Homo sapiens: one gene and its partners. The protein of the gene in region 3 interacts with the protein of the main gene of each other region in a pairwise test. Each region holds a gene or a part of one and is shown on either strand. Other genes may lie near its edges.

Evidence for each region. Proteins that work in one complex are often made in the same cells at the same time.
Region 1: the proteins of SH3GL3 (region 3) and CD101 interact in a two-hybrid assay, tested with the Homo sapiens proteins (one large-scale study listed by BioGRID and IntAct).
Region 2: the proteins of SH3GL3 (region 3) and SNX24 interact in a two-hybrid assay, tested with the Homo sapiens proteins (one large-scale study listed by IntAct).
Region 4: the proteins of SH3GL3 (region 3) and TNNT1 interact in a two-hybrid assay, tested with the Homo sapiens proteins (one large-scale study listed by BioGRID and IntAct).

What each region holds. Positions count from the first base shown.
Region 1 is NC_000001.11:117,000,329-117,004,559, reverse strand, and holds the start of CD101 (immunoglobulin superfamily member 2 isoform 1 precursor), read right to left. Parts: upstream 2,801-4,231; 5' UTR 2,788-2,800; coding exon of another isoform or gene 2,743-2,787; coding exon 2,700-2,742; intron 1-2,699. UniProt on the Homo sapiens protein: Plays a role as inhibitor of T-cells proliferation induced by CD3. Inhibits expression of IL2RA on activated T-cells and secretion of IL2. Inhibits tyrosine kinases that are required for IL2 production and cellular proliferation.
Region 2 is NC_000005.10:122,844,418-122,848,412, reverse strand, and holds the start of SNX24 (sorting nexin-24), read right to left. Parts: upstream 2,801-3,995; 5' UTR 2,780-2,800; coding exon 2,720-2,779; intron 1-2,719. UniProt on the Homo sapiens protein: May be involved in several stages of intracellular trafficking.
Region 3 is NC_000015.10:83,614,841-83,618,340, reverse strand, and holds part of SH3GL3 (endophilin-A3), read right to left. Parts: intron 260-3,500; coding exon 54-259; 3' UTR 1-53. UniProt on the Homo sapiens protein: Implicated in endocytosis. May recruit other proteins to membranes with high curvature.
Region 4 is NC_000019.10:55,146,407-55,150,488, reverse strand, and holds the start of TNNT1 (troponin T, slow skeletal muscle), read left to right. Parts: upstream 1-1,282; 5' UTR 1,283-1,328; intron 1,329-2,395; exon of another isoform or gene 2,396-2,490; intron 2,491-3,320; 5' UTR 3,321-3,331; coding exon 3,332-3,363; intron 3,364-3,467; coding exon 3,468-3,481; intron 3,482-3,781; coding exon 3,782-3,808; coding exon of another isoform or gene 3,809-3,829; intron 3,830-4,022; coding exon 4,023-4,055; intron 4,056-4,082. UniProt on the Homo sapiens protein: Troponin T is the tropomyosin-binding subunit of troponin, the thin filament regulatory complex which confers calcium-sensitivity to striated muscle actomyosin ATPase activity.

The DNA.
Region 1 (4,231 bases), on a different chromosome or scaffold from region 3:
TTGTTGGCTGATGAGTACAAAGCTTGGCACTGACATACTAACATTAGAATCATGCTTTCAAAACACCAAAAATTCCTCGATGGTATTGACTTTCTTTAAAAATATCACTGGAATTGTCAAATTTACCACTGCAGTATTATTTGAATGAAAACGATTAGGTTGAACTGTATAAAATGGTCCATACTTGAGCACTTTTTATACCAAAAAAACAGCAGTTTCAAATAATGCTACCTTATACAAAACCTACCTCAGGAATAGCCAACATAACAAGCAGCTTCTTTCTCTTTTCACATTCAAAAACCCTATATGCTTGGAGGCTGAGATAGCTTCCATCCATACTAAGTGGAATCTTTTTTATTTTTCATGAATGCAAACTCAGTAAGACAGACAATAGCCCTTCCCCCAAACCCTGCCATATTAATGGCCATTATTTGTAGGGCAGCTAGTTTGGGTGGGGGAAATAGATCAAGCAGACAAAGCTAACTGCTAAATCCGAGAACTCATTTACCCATGACATTAATCTCATATGGCACCATTTTCTATCAGGATTGTTCAGTCCTTATATTTACTAAAAAAAAATTGGGACAAAGTGTAAATTTGCTAACCAATGTAATTGATCAATAGATCGTTATTTAAATAATTTATTTCAATTCCCCTCTATATTTGTAAGGACAAACAGCAGACTTCTAAAGCTTTTTCCAGTAACTTCCTGATTTATGTATTCTTCACATAAAAACTGTGCTTCTACACAAAATTAGTGCTTCAGATGAGTCAGAATTTAGAAGAAGTAAATGTATAACCCAGTTTAGGTAATTGTTTAAATGGGTTAAGGAAAAGCTTCCAGCTTCCCCTTTTTGAGCCTTGATTACTACTTTCCTTCCCCCAGGGCTTCTAGCCTGCTTACCAAAAAAAGAGACAGAATTTGCAATTCTATGAATTATTGCACAATGTAAACCCAGTTTCCTCCTATATACATAGCAAACATAGAATTCAAATACACAAAGCACATACACTTGAGAATCACACTCAGACAACTTAACCAAACAACAAAAACACACCAGCCCCCAAAGGATCCCACCAGTGCACCTATCCATCAACACCCGCCAAGCCAGTCTGGCAGGCATCCGTCACCCAGCAAGTGGTCCCAGTAACTTCCCCTGCAGGCCCTAGGTCTGACTCTTAACCTCACACTATCATATGTACCTAGAGACATGAGCACAATTCAACTCAATCAATGTTTATTAAGCAACCTCTTTGTGCTGAATGCTGTATTCTTTTCTTTTAATTCTTCAGCCATAGTCCTGGTCACACCAAATGCAGCTTGGTTTAGTTCCCCAATCATCCCAGCCATTCGGGTCCCTGCACTGGCTCCATCCAGTCTCTCTAAAGCAAGAGTTTTGTTTGTTTGTTTGTTTTTTTAGATGGAATCTCACTCTGTCACCCAGGCTGGAGTGCAGTGGCTCAATCTTGGCTCACTGCAACCTCCACCTCCCAGGTTCAAGCGATTCTCCCACCTCAGCCTCCCAAGTAGCTAGGGCCACAGGTATGTGCCACCATGCCCAGCTATAAAGCAAGAGTTCTTAACTGGGTCCACATGTAGGATTAAAGGGTCCATAAACTAGGGTGAAAAATAATCTTACATCTTTATTTTCATTTTTGCCTCTAATGGAAATTTAGTATTTTCTTCAGTTATGTATGTAGACAACCACAGATATCTTCATATCACATTACAACTACTTAAGATATATTGAAATGTTATTTATACTCATCATTACTTTGAAGTTTGGTGGTTAAAAGACCTACCTGTAGATTTTGTTATGTAATGCATAAATAAGAAGCAAATAAATTACTGCATTATAATTTATTTAAAATATTTTGATACCTGTATTTCAATGTGACTGATTTCCTCTGTAATTCTATGCATTTTATTTTATGCATTTTAAACATTATTCTGAGATGGAGTCTATTCTCTTTACCAGATGTTAATGAAAACTGTAGCATAAAAAGTACCTGCTATCTGGTTTGAAACTATTCCATTACCTGCTCAACTCATCTGACTCTCCCTTCTACCTCCAAATTTTCTCTTCTTCCATCCTATTCAAACATAGATAAATGCCCCTAGATCAGGCAAGCCCCTCTGCATGGCCCTCAGTAGAGCCAAGTGAATCTTCCTGTTCATTTCTCAGTCTCTCAGTAGTCAATTTCCACTTCCACTCGCAGGTGAAATCTAGAACCTTCTTTTAGCATAGTCTAAAACTACTAAGTACTTTCATAACCTTTCTTTCCATCCAGTCATATCTGCAAGGCATAGTTATCCCATCAAGCCTTAATATCAGGCAAACCTTAAGGTCTCCTCTCAGTTTGGGACACAAAGCTTTTTTACTGTCTCTTGGGATGATCGGCCCAGGAAGATGAGTAAAGCCAGGGCCAAGCAAAACTGACAGATCTGGCAACACACACAAATGTTAAAACCAATGGAATCTTGTGCATGGGACTCAACCAAGCATTGTGACTCCCTGGAACTCAAGGATGTCTAGGTAAGCCAAGAACTGTCATTAGTAAGTCAAAAATTATTGCTAACATCAGAAATATATGGCATAGTTGTTCCTGTAGAGACCAAATTGTCCTGTTCCATCACTCAGCACCCTGAGTTGATGAACTCCTGTGACAAGAGAAACATAAAGGATTATGAAACTTACTCAGAAGGAGAAAGAAAGATGCCACATATGAGATGCCTGCCATTTGGGCCAGCACAGTCCTTTTTCGTCCCAATAGTGTCACTAACATTCAGAGGTTGAGTGACAAATGCTGTGCTCTCACTGCAAAGTAAAGAGGAAGCAAAAGTGTGGTTTTCAGCCCACTGAGAAATAGAGATGTCTTGTGAAAAGCAAAACTGGTTACATTATGTAGCTCTTTACTAATCACTCAAATTTGGGAGTAAAAAAGTTATCTTTGTGGTTAAGTAAACAGATATCGATAAAACTAAGAAAAGATGGGTCTCAACCTGGCTCACAGTATGTGTCATTTGGTAATGATGAGAGAATTTAGGTAAACTGAATAAATAAAAAAGGCACCAGCAATGTTGTCTTCTTGGCCCTTCCTTCTCCTCCTCTCTTGAGAGAGGAAATGACTGAGAAATGGGAGAAGGCCCCTGAAAAACATGAACTTGGGGCGACATGAGGTGGTGCTGAAGGTTACAGGCTCTAGAGTCAGGCTGCCTGGGTTTGCATGCAGATTCTAGTTTTAGTAACTGTGCAATCTTAGAAAACTTAATTAACTTTTCCTAACCCTCATTGCTAAAATGAGGATACTAATAGTAGGTACCCTGTAAGATTACTGTGAATGCCAAATGAGCTAATTTTTTAATTATTTTTTTATTTCTTTTTTTTTGTATTTTACTTTTTTTTATTATTATTATACTTTAAGTTCTAGGGTACATGTGCACAACGTGCAAATTTGTTACATATGTATACATGTGCCATGTTGGTGTGCTGCACCCATTAACTCGTCATTTACATTAGGTATATCTCCTAATGCTTTCCCTCCCCCTTCCCCCGACCCTATGACAGGCCCCGGTGTGTGATGTTCCCCTTCCTGTGTCCAAGTGTTCTCACTGTTCAATTCCCACCTATGAGTGAGAACATGCAGTGTTTGGTTTTTTGTTCTTGAGATAGTTTGCTGAGAATGATAGTTTCAAGCTAATTTATTTAAAGCACTTAGAACAATATCTGGTACATAGTAACTGCTCAATGAATATTAGCTACCATCATCACCATCATGAGACATTTAAGTAAATCTTCATCTGCCCTGTGAAACTGCCTTTGCAAAAATTGTAACAGTGAGAAAGTTATGACAGTGAAAGGGATCTGACCTCACCATCTCCATCTTGCTTCTAACTTCCAAGCTGCCCTTGTTAATTCCTGGTTGTAGGCCAAACTAACTTTGGGAGGAATTTAGCTTAGTTTAATTTTGAAACAAAGAGGATAACAGCCCTTTCTGGAAACAAACCCCCTTCTTGCCTGGGGAGCAGACTTCCCTAGTAAGACTAACAAATTAGCCACAACATTAGAAATTATGGTTTAGGAGTCATGCAGCCAGAGGCCACACAATTCCAACCTCCCCAACTGTTCCTAGGGATAACATCACTATTGTAAAACCTAAATTGGTGCTCAAGGTATTTTTCAGACCCTGCATCCTGATGCACCAGCTGACACCATCCAGGCTGGTGATC
Region 2 (3,995 bases), on a different chromosome or scaffold from region 3:
TTTTAAACACAAACACAGGTCGGGCTCAGTGGCCCGCGCCTATAATCCCAGCACTTTGGGAGGTCAAGGTGGGAGGATCCCTTAAACCTAGGAGTTTGAGACTAGCCAGTGCAATATAGTGAGATCCCATCTCTACAAAAAATACAAAAATTAGCCAGTTGTGGTGATTTATGCCTGTGCTACTCAAGAGGCCAAGGGGGAAGGATCACTTGAGCCCAAGAGTCCAAGGCTGCTGTGAGCTAGGATTGCGCCACTGCACTCCAGCCTGGGTGACAGAGCAAGATCCTAGCTCTTAAAAACACACATTCACACAAACATAATCGCTAAAGTAAAAAGATATTTTTTACACGAAAGTGTACATTATTTTACAAGCTTCTTATTTAGGAAACTGAAATATTTTTTAAATTCTGGGGTTTTTTTTAAGCTGCTATATTCATAGCTTATTCACTGCTATATTCCCTACACCCAGAATACAGACACAGAGCAGGCACTCAGTAAATATTTGTTGAATGAAAAACCGCTGTACAATCATAAAACCAGTTGTGCAGAGGGGAAAAGTATCTAATAACTGCTTCACAAACTCACAGAAGCAAAAAAATCCCTTCAGAAGGTATTTTAGGGCTGGGTGTGGTGGCTCATGCCTGTTATCCCAGCACTTTGGGAGGCCTAGGCAGATGGTTTGCTTGAGCACAGGAGTTCAAGACTAGCCTGGGCAACATGGAGAAACCCTGTCTCTACAAAAAATTTAAAAATTATCCAGGAGTGGTGCCATGTGCCTGTAGTCCCAGCTACTCCAGGGGCTGAGGTGGAAGGATTACATGAGCCCAGGAGGCAGAGGTTGCAGTGAGCTGAGATCACCCCACTGCACTCCAGCCTGGGTGACAGAGGAAGACTGTCTCAAAAAAAAAAAGAGAGAGAGAGATTTTAACAGTTTAGCTCCCAATCTGGATGAGTTAGGATTTTTTTTAAGCAAATATTTAAAGAGCAAACTCTCATCACATAAGCAATCTTCAAACTCTCCCGAATTTGTCCAAAAAAGAGCTCCTTCCACATCAGTTTAATTCACAACCTGGAGTGTGGCACATGCCTGGTCATAAATACAAATAATAAAAAGATACATAAAGCTTTGGGAGAAAAGCACAGCTCGTCTAATAGAAGAAAATCAACAATGGGCAATGAGCCTTAATTATGGTCTATTTCAAAGTGCTTATTTCTGCAGGTAATTAACTTTTAGCTTGAACCGGTAAGATCAACTTCATCTTTTCTTTGAAAGCCAACGCCTCTAACAAGCAGCCTTTTTATCTTCAGATCCTAAATGAATGTCCCAAAGATGGTAAGCCCTCCATGACTGTTGATAGTGCTGATGGGAGAAGTGAGATACCTGGGAGAAGCAACAACAAGCAAGGTTTTAGGCTTAAGAGACTTGGATAAAATCTCCAAGAAAAAAAAAAAAAAGCCTTGAACAAACTCGAGGGTTTGTTTGTTTGTTTTTAAGGAAGATACAGACTATTTAACGAAATGTGAATGCACTGGAAAGGATTATTTATATAAATAACTACCACTATGGAACACAGCTCCCTCTCCCTGCATTTTCCTTCCCAAGGAAAGCACTTTAACAACTTGTTTCAGAACACTTGGATCCAGCAGTCTACTCAATTCTAAAAACCCACCGACTTCCTGGACTATTTTTTCAATCACTGTTTTTCATTCTAAATCTTCCTTTGAGAGGGTAATTTAGTCCCAACTAAGAAAACACAATGGCCCAAACAGACTGTCACCAAATACCAGTAATATTTAGAGGAGGGGAGAGGGGTTAAAATATTCTCCATCAAAGTAATGTAACTGGTGTTTAGCAAGTGTGTGATTGATGTAAATAAAATAACAAATCTTTCAGACTGCCCTGCAATCTTTCTTCAACCCTACAGGTTCTTTAACAACTGGAAGTAAATTCTTCCAAGGTGTACACACACTCAGACATTTCTCCCACTAGCAATGACTGTCCAGGAAAGAATGTTTTGAATTCATTGGGAAATCTCCACCAACAATTCACTTAGTAAACGTGTTGCTCAAAGGGCCCATGCCCTGGTCTCTGCCCTCCCCTTCACTCTTGAGAGCAGGGGTCCTGTTTCACACTTCTCGGTGACCACAGTCCTAGGTATGAAACAGGTGCTCAGCAAGTAATTTTGCCATTTCATGGAACTGCACAACTCAAAAAGAAAAATCTTTGGAAATCATCTAAAATCAATACACGTGTTTAGTTTGGCTAATAAACAGCTGCAAATTATGATTTAAAAAAAAAAAACAGGTTTTCCAGCTGAACTAATTGTACAGAACTTGGAAGCCAGCGTGAATCTGCCGCGAAGCTACTACTGTCTGGACTGAGGGGGCAGCTGTGCCAGAAAGGAACGCAGCCCATCCTGGGCTCCCGAAGGCGGGCGGCGGGGAGAATGGCTAGTGCCGCGTCCGAGGACTGCAGCTCGTCCGGGAGGAGAGGGTTGGACCCCGAGGGGCTAGGGGCGCCCGCAGCCGCCGTGCCCGGGAGGGGCGCCCGTTTCCTTGACAACCGCGCCAAGGGCGCAGCCCTTCCTCTGGGCCGGGGGAGGGGAGAGAAAACGAGGGGACCCCCTGCGCCAAGGCGGCGGCGGCCAAGGGTGTTTCCTGGGCGCAGCAGCCGCAGGCCTGGCTCGCGGGGCCCTGTCCGCCCGCGGCCCGCGCCTACCGTGTATCCCCGCTCCAGGTCGCTCTCTTCATAGCGAAAGGACGGGATGTAGACCTCCATGGCCGCGCCGGCCAGCCGGCTGAGGGCGAGTTGGGGGCAGGCTCACGGCCGCGGCCGCCGCTCCGCCCACGGCCGGGCCGCCCCGCCTCCCGCCCCGCTGCGCCCGCGGGGCCCCGAGGCTGCGGGCCGGACTCAGGTCTGCGGGCTGACCCGGCCGCTCCCGCGCCCTGGGCGTGCCGGGGGCCGGAAGCAGAGGGCGCAGGGCTCCAGGCGCCTGGGTTTCGGGCCTAACGGGCGGTGGAGATCAGCTGGGCCCGAAAGAGGCGGGGCCAGAAAACCTGAGTCTGCAGAAACGGGGTGTGCGCGCCAACGCGCTGGGCGCGGGGACTGGGCCGCACCCGGCGCTCCCTGCCCTGCGGACTCCGGCTGGAGCTTGATTTGCAGTTTGCTAGACGCCACCATTAAGAGATTGCCAGACAGCAAAGAATAGAAAGAGTGGCGCTTTTAACTTTTGTTTTGGTTGGTTGAATTTTTTTTTTCCCTCTCGGCTGGCATTAACAGCGGTGAACCAGCCGGCTTATACCAAGACTCTCCGAATTCCCTTCGATTCGAAGGTCAGCGTCTCCTGAGTTAGACGTCGAATCTGAGAATGGTGGTGTACCACAGAGCTCGAAAGTGAGCCCGAAAGTTGGCCGGTCACTAAGACAAACGCTCTGGCTTCACGCTGCAGTTCTAAAATGCCGCCTTTAACTGTGAAGTACTTTTTAACTGTGAGGGAAAAATAGAATACGGAAAAAAAAAGGACTGAACCCGTGCCTCGGACCAGGGTCTAGTAGGCTGAAGGTACCTAAAAGATTAAGTGTCCCGGCGGGGGAGGCTTGATTATCAAGTTAGTCAAGTAAACGTTGGGTTTCTTCTTTAGGTTAGCGCACCGAGCAGAATAGAAACGTGGACGTGACTTGTAGGTCACTGAGAAGTGACCTCAGCCATCCAGGAAAAAACCAGCCAGCGAGCTTTCTTGGACTGTAAACAATTGCACTTAACTCCGTTTGTCCTTGAGTGCAGAGGACATTTCAGCTTAGCAAACTCTAGACTTTATGATGGGACCCTGAGCCGTGCAACAGAGGGATAAGGCAGCTTCTCGTTTTAGGAACTTACCTGATGTGGACCCCTCTACATTAGTCTCATCTGAAGATCCGTCCTCCTAACCCAGCACTCACACATTTGCAGCTCCAGGATGTGCCCTTCTCTCAAAACTGTGCCTTAGCTGTGCCCT
Region 3 (3,500 bases):
TGGTGTGAATTCATTTCAGTTACGAAAGTATGTCCAGAGTTTGTGTTACACATTTACTGAGGTAAAGGCACGATCACTTCCACGTAATTAATGGGGAAGAATCCCGATTCTCCGTGTATCATTCCTTCATACCAGTTTTCATCTATTTGATTGGTTAATGTAATGATGTCCCCTTCTTTAAATCCTAATTCTCCTTGGTTTTCTGGCTCAAAGTCATAGAGACCACGACAGCAGGGCTGGTCCATGGGAATGTTAGAACCTGTCCACATGATATGGAGACAAAAAGTACAGATGAACATGATGGATTATCCATGGGAAATTGGAAATGTGGAAAAGCTCAGAGAGACCCTTAACAGCAGGCCTTGCTTCCTTCCCACAAGGCCAGCTCCACCCAGCTCACGGTGCCGTTTGTGGTCTCTGGCTGCCTCAGCTCTCCCAGCTGCCTGCGCCAACCCCATGAGCCCAGAGTCTATCTTTTCAATACTCCCAGGCAGAGAAGTCGTGCCCAGCCCATCTCCCAAAAGCAGCCAGTCAGCTCCACCTGGAGCCCTAAGGGAGCGACAGAGGAATCACAGGCCCACCTCCTTCTCTCTGGGAGCTTACAGTTTCTTTGTGGGGATTAGAAAATACACGAGAAACTTTTATTTATTTATTTATCTATTTTTGAGACAGAGTCTTGCTCTGTTGCCCAGGCTGGAGTGCAATGGTGCGATCCTGGCTTACTGTAACCTCTGCCTCCCAGGTTCAAGAAATTTTCGTGCCTCAGCCTCCCAAGCAGCTGGGACTACAGGCATGCGCCACCACGCCCAGCTAATTTTGTATTTTTAGTACAGGTGGGGTTTCACCATATTGGCCAGTCTGGTCTCGAACTCCTGGCCTTAAGTGATCTGCTCACCTCAACCTCCCAAAGTGTGGGGATTACAGGCGTGATCCACTGTGCATGGCCAAAAATCTTTTAAAGAACAAATATGAAGTGTGTATCACTCATGGTTCAGGAGCTCTGGGGAGAGGGTAGTAGGGAGGACCTTGGTGGTCAGCAAGATCTTCCTAGTTAATGGGCAGGACAAGGGCCGGGAGGAGAGAAACCAGGACAAGAAAGGCAAGAATATTTACAGACCAGAATTTACAGACAAGAATATTTACTGACATCTAGTCCCAGAATAACATCAAAAACATTTTTTTCAAAACAAAATCATGCTAATTGTAAACAAAAAATACATGTATGCAAAGTGGAGAAAGAAAAGTCAGAGCTGTAAACCATTACCCCAGAGATAACTGGGCTAGCTTTCAGATTCCAGATGTCTTCATGATTATATTTGTGCATATATTTACATATAGTTGTTTTCATAAAAGATTCTTCTTGTACAAGCTAGGGTGAATATCTTTCAATTTTAGTTACTGACTAGCTGTCAGCTCTCACAATGTAACATTTCTTCAACTAATCTCCTATTGTTGGACATTTACGGTTCTTCTTTCTTTTCCTTCCTTCTCTTCTTTTCATCTCTTCTTTTCCTTCCTTCCTTCATTCTTTTCTTCCTTCTCCCTCCCTGTTTTTCTCGATTTCTCTTCCTTTTTCTTCATTTCTTTCTGTTGTCTCTTTTATTCCCCCTTGGCTTTTATAGACAATTCTTTGGGAAAAAGAGCTTATACATAAATATCTACAAATGTGCACTATTAATTTCTGAGGATAAATTCCAAGAAAAGGATTTCATGGTCATAGAACATGAATTCTTTCTAAAATATCTGACATTTAGTGTCAATTTATTTTTCTATTAGGTTGGTGCAAAAGCAATCACAGTGGCCAGGCGCAGTGGCTCACGCTTGTAATCCCAGCACTTTGGGAGGCTGAGGCGGGCGGATCACGAGTTCAGGAGATCGAGAACACAGTGAAACCCTGTCTCTACTAAAAATACAAAAAAATTAGCCGGGCGTGGTGGCGGGCACCTGTAGTCCCAGCTACTTGGAGAGGCTGAGGCAGGAGAATGGCGTGAACCCGGAAGGCGGAGGTTGCAGTGAGCCAAGATCGCGCCACCGCACTCCAGCCTGGGGGACAGAGCAAGACTCCATCTCAAAAAAAAAAAAAAAAAAAGCAATCACAATTTTTACCATTACTTTTAGTGGCAAAACCTGCAATTACTTTTGCACCAACCTAATATCACTATTTTTCTTAAGATGTTTAGAAGTCCCTTTATACTACACATATTTACCCTTTATCTGTCATTTCTGGTACAAACATTATTCCCAACTTATCATCTGTTCTTTTTTTTTCTCATTTTGTTTTTGAAGTTTGTGCTGGCAGTGGGGCAGGGAAAGGGGTTTCTATTTTGTTTTGGCATGAATGCACAAATTGAAGAGTATAAGCAGTCAAACTAATCAAACTTTCTATTCATGGTTTATTCTCCACAGTCCTATATAAAGACTCAACTAAATTTTATTCTAGTATTTTTATTTAATTTTTTTCACATCAGAACTTTTATAATCTATTTGGATTTTGGCAAAATGAGGTAAATATCTATTATATTTAATAATGCTTATGCAGTCATAACAACATACTTAAATAATCCATATTTTCTCCAGTGATTTCAAGTATTGCCTTTATCTTTATCATATATTTAATCATCATGGGACTTAGATCTATTTTTGGATTTTTTCTATTTTGTCCCACTGACTCATTTTGGTAACAGTACCATATCATTTTAAATACTGTGGCTTTATAATAAATGTTAACAGGCCGGGTGTGGTGGCTCACACCTGTAATCCCAGCACTCTGGGAGGCCAAGGCGGGCAGTTCACTTGAGGCCAGGAGTTTGAGACCACCCTGGCCAACATGGTGAAACCCCATCTCTAAAAATACAAAAGTTAGCCAGGCATGGTAGCGCATGTCTGTAATCCCAGCTACTCAAGAGGCTGAGGCAGGAGGATCACTTGAACCTGGGAGGCGGAGGTTGCAGTGAGCTGAGATCACACCACTACACTCCAGCCTGGGTGACAGAGTGAGACTCCATCTCAAAAATAAATAAATAAATAAAATGTTAATAACTAGTAAAACTAGTTCATAGTCATTACCCTTCTATTTCAATATTTCCTTGCTATTCTCATGAATTCATTTAACTAGGTATATTTCAGTATTAATATGACACATTTCTCTCACAAAAATCTCACTTCAATTTTGACTAGTTCATACTTTTTTTCTTTGAGTATTAATAAGATTAATCTTAGGAGTTTTTTTTTTTCTTAATAAGTGACTTTTGCCATCCTATTTGATGATTTCCATTTTTATTTCCTTTTTCTGTTATAAGACTTTTTCCTCCCTCTAGACTTCAAGTGAGAATTGAACAAGTTCTGCTAGAGATTATGTTCTTTCTCCACTAAGTCTTCTAGGTCCAAGTAAAGAGAATAGGTACGTTGGGGTATTTCTGTGGCTGGCCAAATGAGATGCCCCTTTGTCCTGGGGAGGGGTAGAGAGGTGACAGCATTATGGGAGGAGGAAGACAAGAGTT
Region 4 (4,082 bases), on a different chromosome or scaffold from region 3:
AGTTGGGAGTAGAGAGAGTAGGAGCCAGGCAAAGACCCAAAGAGAGAGGGAGAAAATACCACAAGATGCATAGAAGGAAGTGCAAAGAAAGGAGAAAAGAGAGACAGAGATATACTCACAGCAAGGTGCAGAGACATGGAGACCCTATAAGAGATGGAAATGGAGAGCCACAGAGGGGGAACTGCGGGCACTAAGAGAGACATGGAGAGAACTAGAAAGATAGAGACGTGAACACAGACACAGAGACCCAGAGCCAAAAAGAGACAGAAATGGGGTCATAGGTGGACAGAAATGCACAGAGAGACTGTGAGCCCCCACAGACACAAACGCTGAGAGGGGCAGACATGCAGAGACACCCACAGAAATGCAGAGACAAAACCACCCGGAGACACATGCCGAGAAACACACTGAGGGGCTCAGAAAGCGACAGATGCAGAGAGAGCCCAAGACAGACCCAGCAAGGGGCCCCGAGAAATGCACAGAAACACAAAGACCGAGACCACCAGAGACAGAGGTACGGAGAGGCGGGGAGGGTGAGGAAGCCTGCTCTCCAGGGCTGGCTTGAACCTAGAACTCAAGGTCATGGCTTGGCTGGGAAGCGGGAGGGGGATACCAAAAAAGATCAGCGTTAGATGGAGGTGGGGAGGGAGGGTAGGTTTCACCCTAATTGACACCCCACCCTCCCCCTCCCCCTCCCCACACCTGCTTCCCGGCTTTAGTGCCTGTTGTCACCAGGATGGAATCCTGGCGGCAGACAAAGGGGTGGGGGTGGGAGGAGGAGACAAAAAGATGGACAGAGACAGAGGAGGAGACTAAGAAGTAGAGACAGACACACAGAGACACACAGATGGAGAGCCACAGAGACAACAGAAATGGGGGTCCAGAAAGAGACCTAGATAGAAAGAGGGAACAGAGAGAAGAAAACAGGAAACATTCCTTATAGCCCATGTGTCATTAGTAGGTCCTCCAAGGACCTACTGTGTGCCGGGCATGGGGACGTCAAAGCACAGGGAGCTATAAGGGAGGTAGTTGGAGCACCACGGGAGCCTGGGGTGTGGGGTGGGAGCAGGGGCGGGGCTCCTGGGCCATGCAGATGGGGTTGGCATGGGGTTGGGGAGGGGCCCACGGAGGCTTCTGGACTCTGAGTGTGGAGCCAGGGGCAGCAGGGCTGTCTCTGAACTCCCAGGCTTGTGTTTGAGCAAAGGAATTCTCTCCCCCTCCCTCTCCCCTCGGGGCGGGCCCGAGCCTCCAGCTATAAACTCCCCGGAGCTTCAGTGCCCTCAGCAAGGCTCAGCCTCAAGATTCACAGCATCTCAGACACAGCCTAGGTAAGGGGCTCTGCGGAGCCCTGTGGTCTTCAAAAACCATGTCCTTGGGGGAGGGGGCAGGAGGCAGGTGGGGAAGATGTCGGGTGTGGAGAAATGGTGCAGAGGTAGGTGGGGCATACAACTGGAGGTCTGGGAACTTGAGAGGCTCAGACTTTAGGGGGACTCAGGATAGAGGGGAAAATACTAGGATTTGTGGGTTACACAAATCCTAACCCGGGGCTGCCAGGACTTGGATGTCCCAGAATAAAACCTCCTAGGATCTTGGGGTTCTGGGAATCTGGGGGAAATCTCAGCAGTCAGGGATATCTGGACTTGGAGGTCAAACAATCTGGGTGTCAGGATTTGGGGCCTCAGACTCTGAGGGTATCAGGAATTGGGGGGGTCTCAGAAGAAATTGGGGTTTTGGTAGTGGAGGGCTCGGAATCTGAGACATTATGATAGAAAGCATGAAAACTTAGAGTGCCATTATCTGGGGTATCATGAACTGGGCCTCCGAGTTTGGGTATCAAGATTTTGGGGGTCTCATATTCTTGAGGTTTCAGATTTTAGGAGGTCTCAAGACCTGGGGGTGGTCTTAGGATGTCCCGGCCCATATCTGGACTATCAAGAACTGGGATTTCAGAATCCAGAGCTGTGAGGACTTGCTGGCCTCAGAAACACGGGCATCATAAATCGGGGTCTCAGAATCTGTGGGTATTGGGATTTGGGGCTAGGCACCCTGTGGCCTAGGGTGTCTCAAAGACTTTGAGGTCTAAGAATGTAGGGGTCAGGGTGAGGTCTACGGACAGAAGGTGCCCTTTATGCCCCTGCCCCCTACGTGATGTATGGGAAGGTGAAAGGGGAGACAGGTGGGGAGGAAACCAGCCAGTGGGGTGGGGCGAGTGGGAGAGGGGATGCGGGTGACTAATTCTCCCAGAAGCCCCCCTTCCTCAAATCCCTTCTTAGGAAATGTCCTCGGTTTCACCATCTATGACATCCCCCCAAAATAGCTCCTGGGGGTGGGGCAGCTATTGTCTTCAGGCCACTGTCCCTTCTCAAATGCCTCTTCCTAATCCCAACTGGATCAGGTTCCCATGGACTTGTCATAAGACAAAAGAGGACAGCTGTGCTGAGGGGGCAGGGTCTGCAGCCTCCTGGCTGTGCCAGGACCACACCTACCAAGGTCTGTCCTCATGCATGCTTTAGGACAGCCGGCCCCCTCCCTCAGACCCAAGAGTCCAGACCTGAGCCCTCCTCCCTCAGACGCAGGAGTACAGGCCCCCAGCCCGCTCCTCCCTCAGACTCAGGAGTCTAGACTCCCAGCCTCTCCTCCCTTAGATCCAGGAGTCCAGGCCCCAGCTCCTCCTCCCTCAGACCCAGGAGGCCAGGCCCCCAGACCCTCCTCCCTCAGACCCAGGCGTCCAGGCCCGCGGCCCCTCCTCCCTCAGACCCAGGCGTCCAGGCCCCTGGCCCCTCCTCCCTCAGATCCAGGAGTCCAGACCCCAGCCCCTCCTCCCTCAGACCCAGGTGTCCAGGACAACCCATCTCAGTCTCAGGAGTCCACACCCACCCTCCCACACACCCCCCAGCCCCTCCTCCCTCAGACCCAGGAATCCGGCCCCCAGCCCCTCCTCCCTCAGATCCAGGAGTTCAGGACCCCAGTCCCTCCTCCCTCAGACCCAGAAGTCCAGGCCCCAGCCCCTCCTTCCTCAGACCCAGGAGTCCAGGCCCCAGCTCCTCCTCCCTCAGACCCAGGAGTCCAGACCCCAGCCCCTCCTCCCTCAGACCCAGGAGTCCAGGCCCCCAGCCCCTCCTTCCTCAGACCCAGGAGTCCAGGCCCCAGCTCCTCCTCTCTCACACCCAGGAGTCCAGACCCCAGCTCCTCCTCTCTCACACCCAGGAGTCCAGACCCAGGAGTCCAGGCCCCCAGCCCCTCCTCCCTCACACCCAGGAGTCTAGGTCGCCCCCTCCTTGGGGCCCCACCCCACTGGGCCTCTTCTCTCTGGTCCTTAGGCCGCACCAGGATGTCGGACACCGAGGAGCAGGAATATGAGGAGTGAGTGCTGCACTGGGAGGGGTTGGGGCGTGCAGTGGTGGAGAGGCTCTCCCACCCCAGGTCTAACTCTCCCCTCCCTCCTCTCTCCCCACACCCGTCCGCAGGGAGCAGCCGGAAGGTGAGTAGGGAGTGGGCCGGCCCTATGGGATGGGGACACGCCCAGGAGCTCTTGGGAGGGGAGGCGAGGAGTGTGGCACTTTGGCGGGGAAGGGGCGGCTCAGCCCTCGGGCCCTCGCCCGCCCTCTCCGGGTCTGGAGCGTCTCCTCGCGCCATCCCTGCACCGCCAGGGGGAACGTGCCCATCGCAGCCGAGGCCAGAGGGACCCCCGTCCAGCAGAGACTGGAACCCTGGTCTCTGGCCACCGCCCCCATCCCTCCCCCAGCTCCTAACGCCTTCTCTTCTGTGCCCCCATCTCCAGAGGAGGCTGCGGAGGAGGAGGAGGAAGGTGAGGTCCCGGACTCCGCAGGTCTGGAGCTGGGGGGTGGGGGGGCGGGGACGCTGGGCCCGGGAGGAGGGGGCGGGATGGGGCTCCCGACGGCCTCGGCTCCCGGTCCTCTAACAGCCTCTCACGTCTCTTCCCTCTCTCCCCTCCCGCGCCCGGGCGTGGCCGCTCCCCCCTCGCTCCCCAAACCCTCGCTGCTCCTCCCTCCCCTCCCCAGCCCCCGAAGAGCCGGAGCCGGTGGCAGAGCCAGGTAACCGCGGCTGCTTCGCTTCCCGAG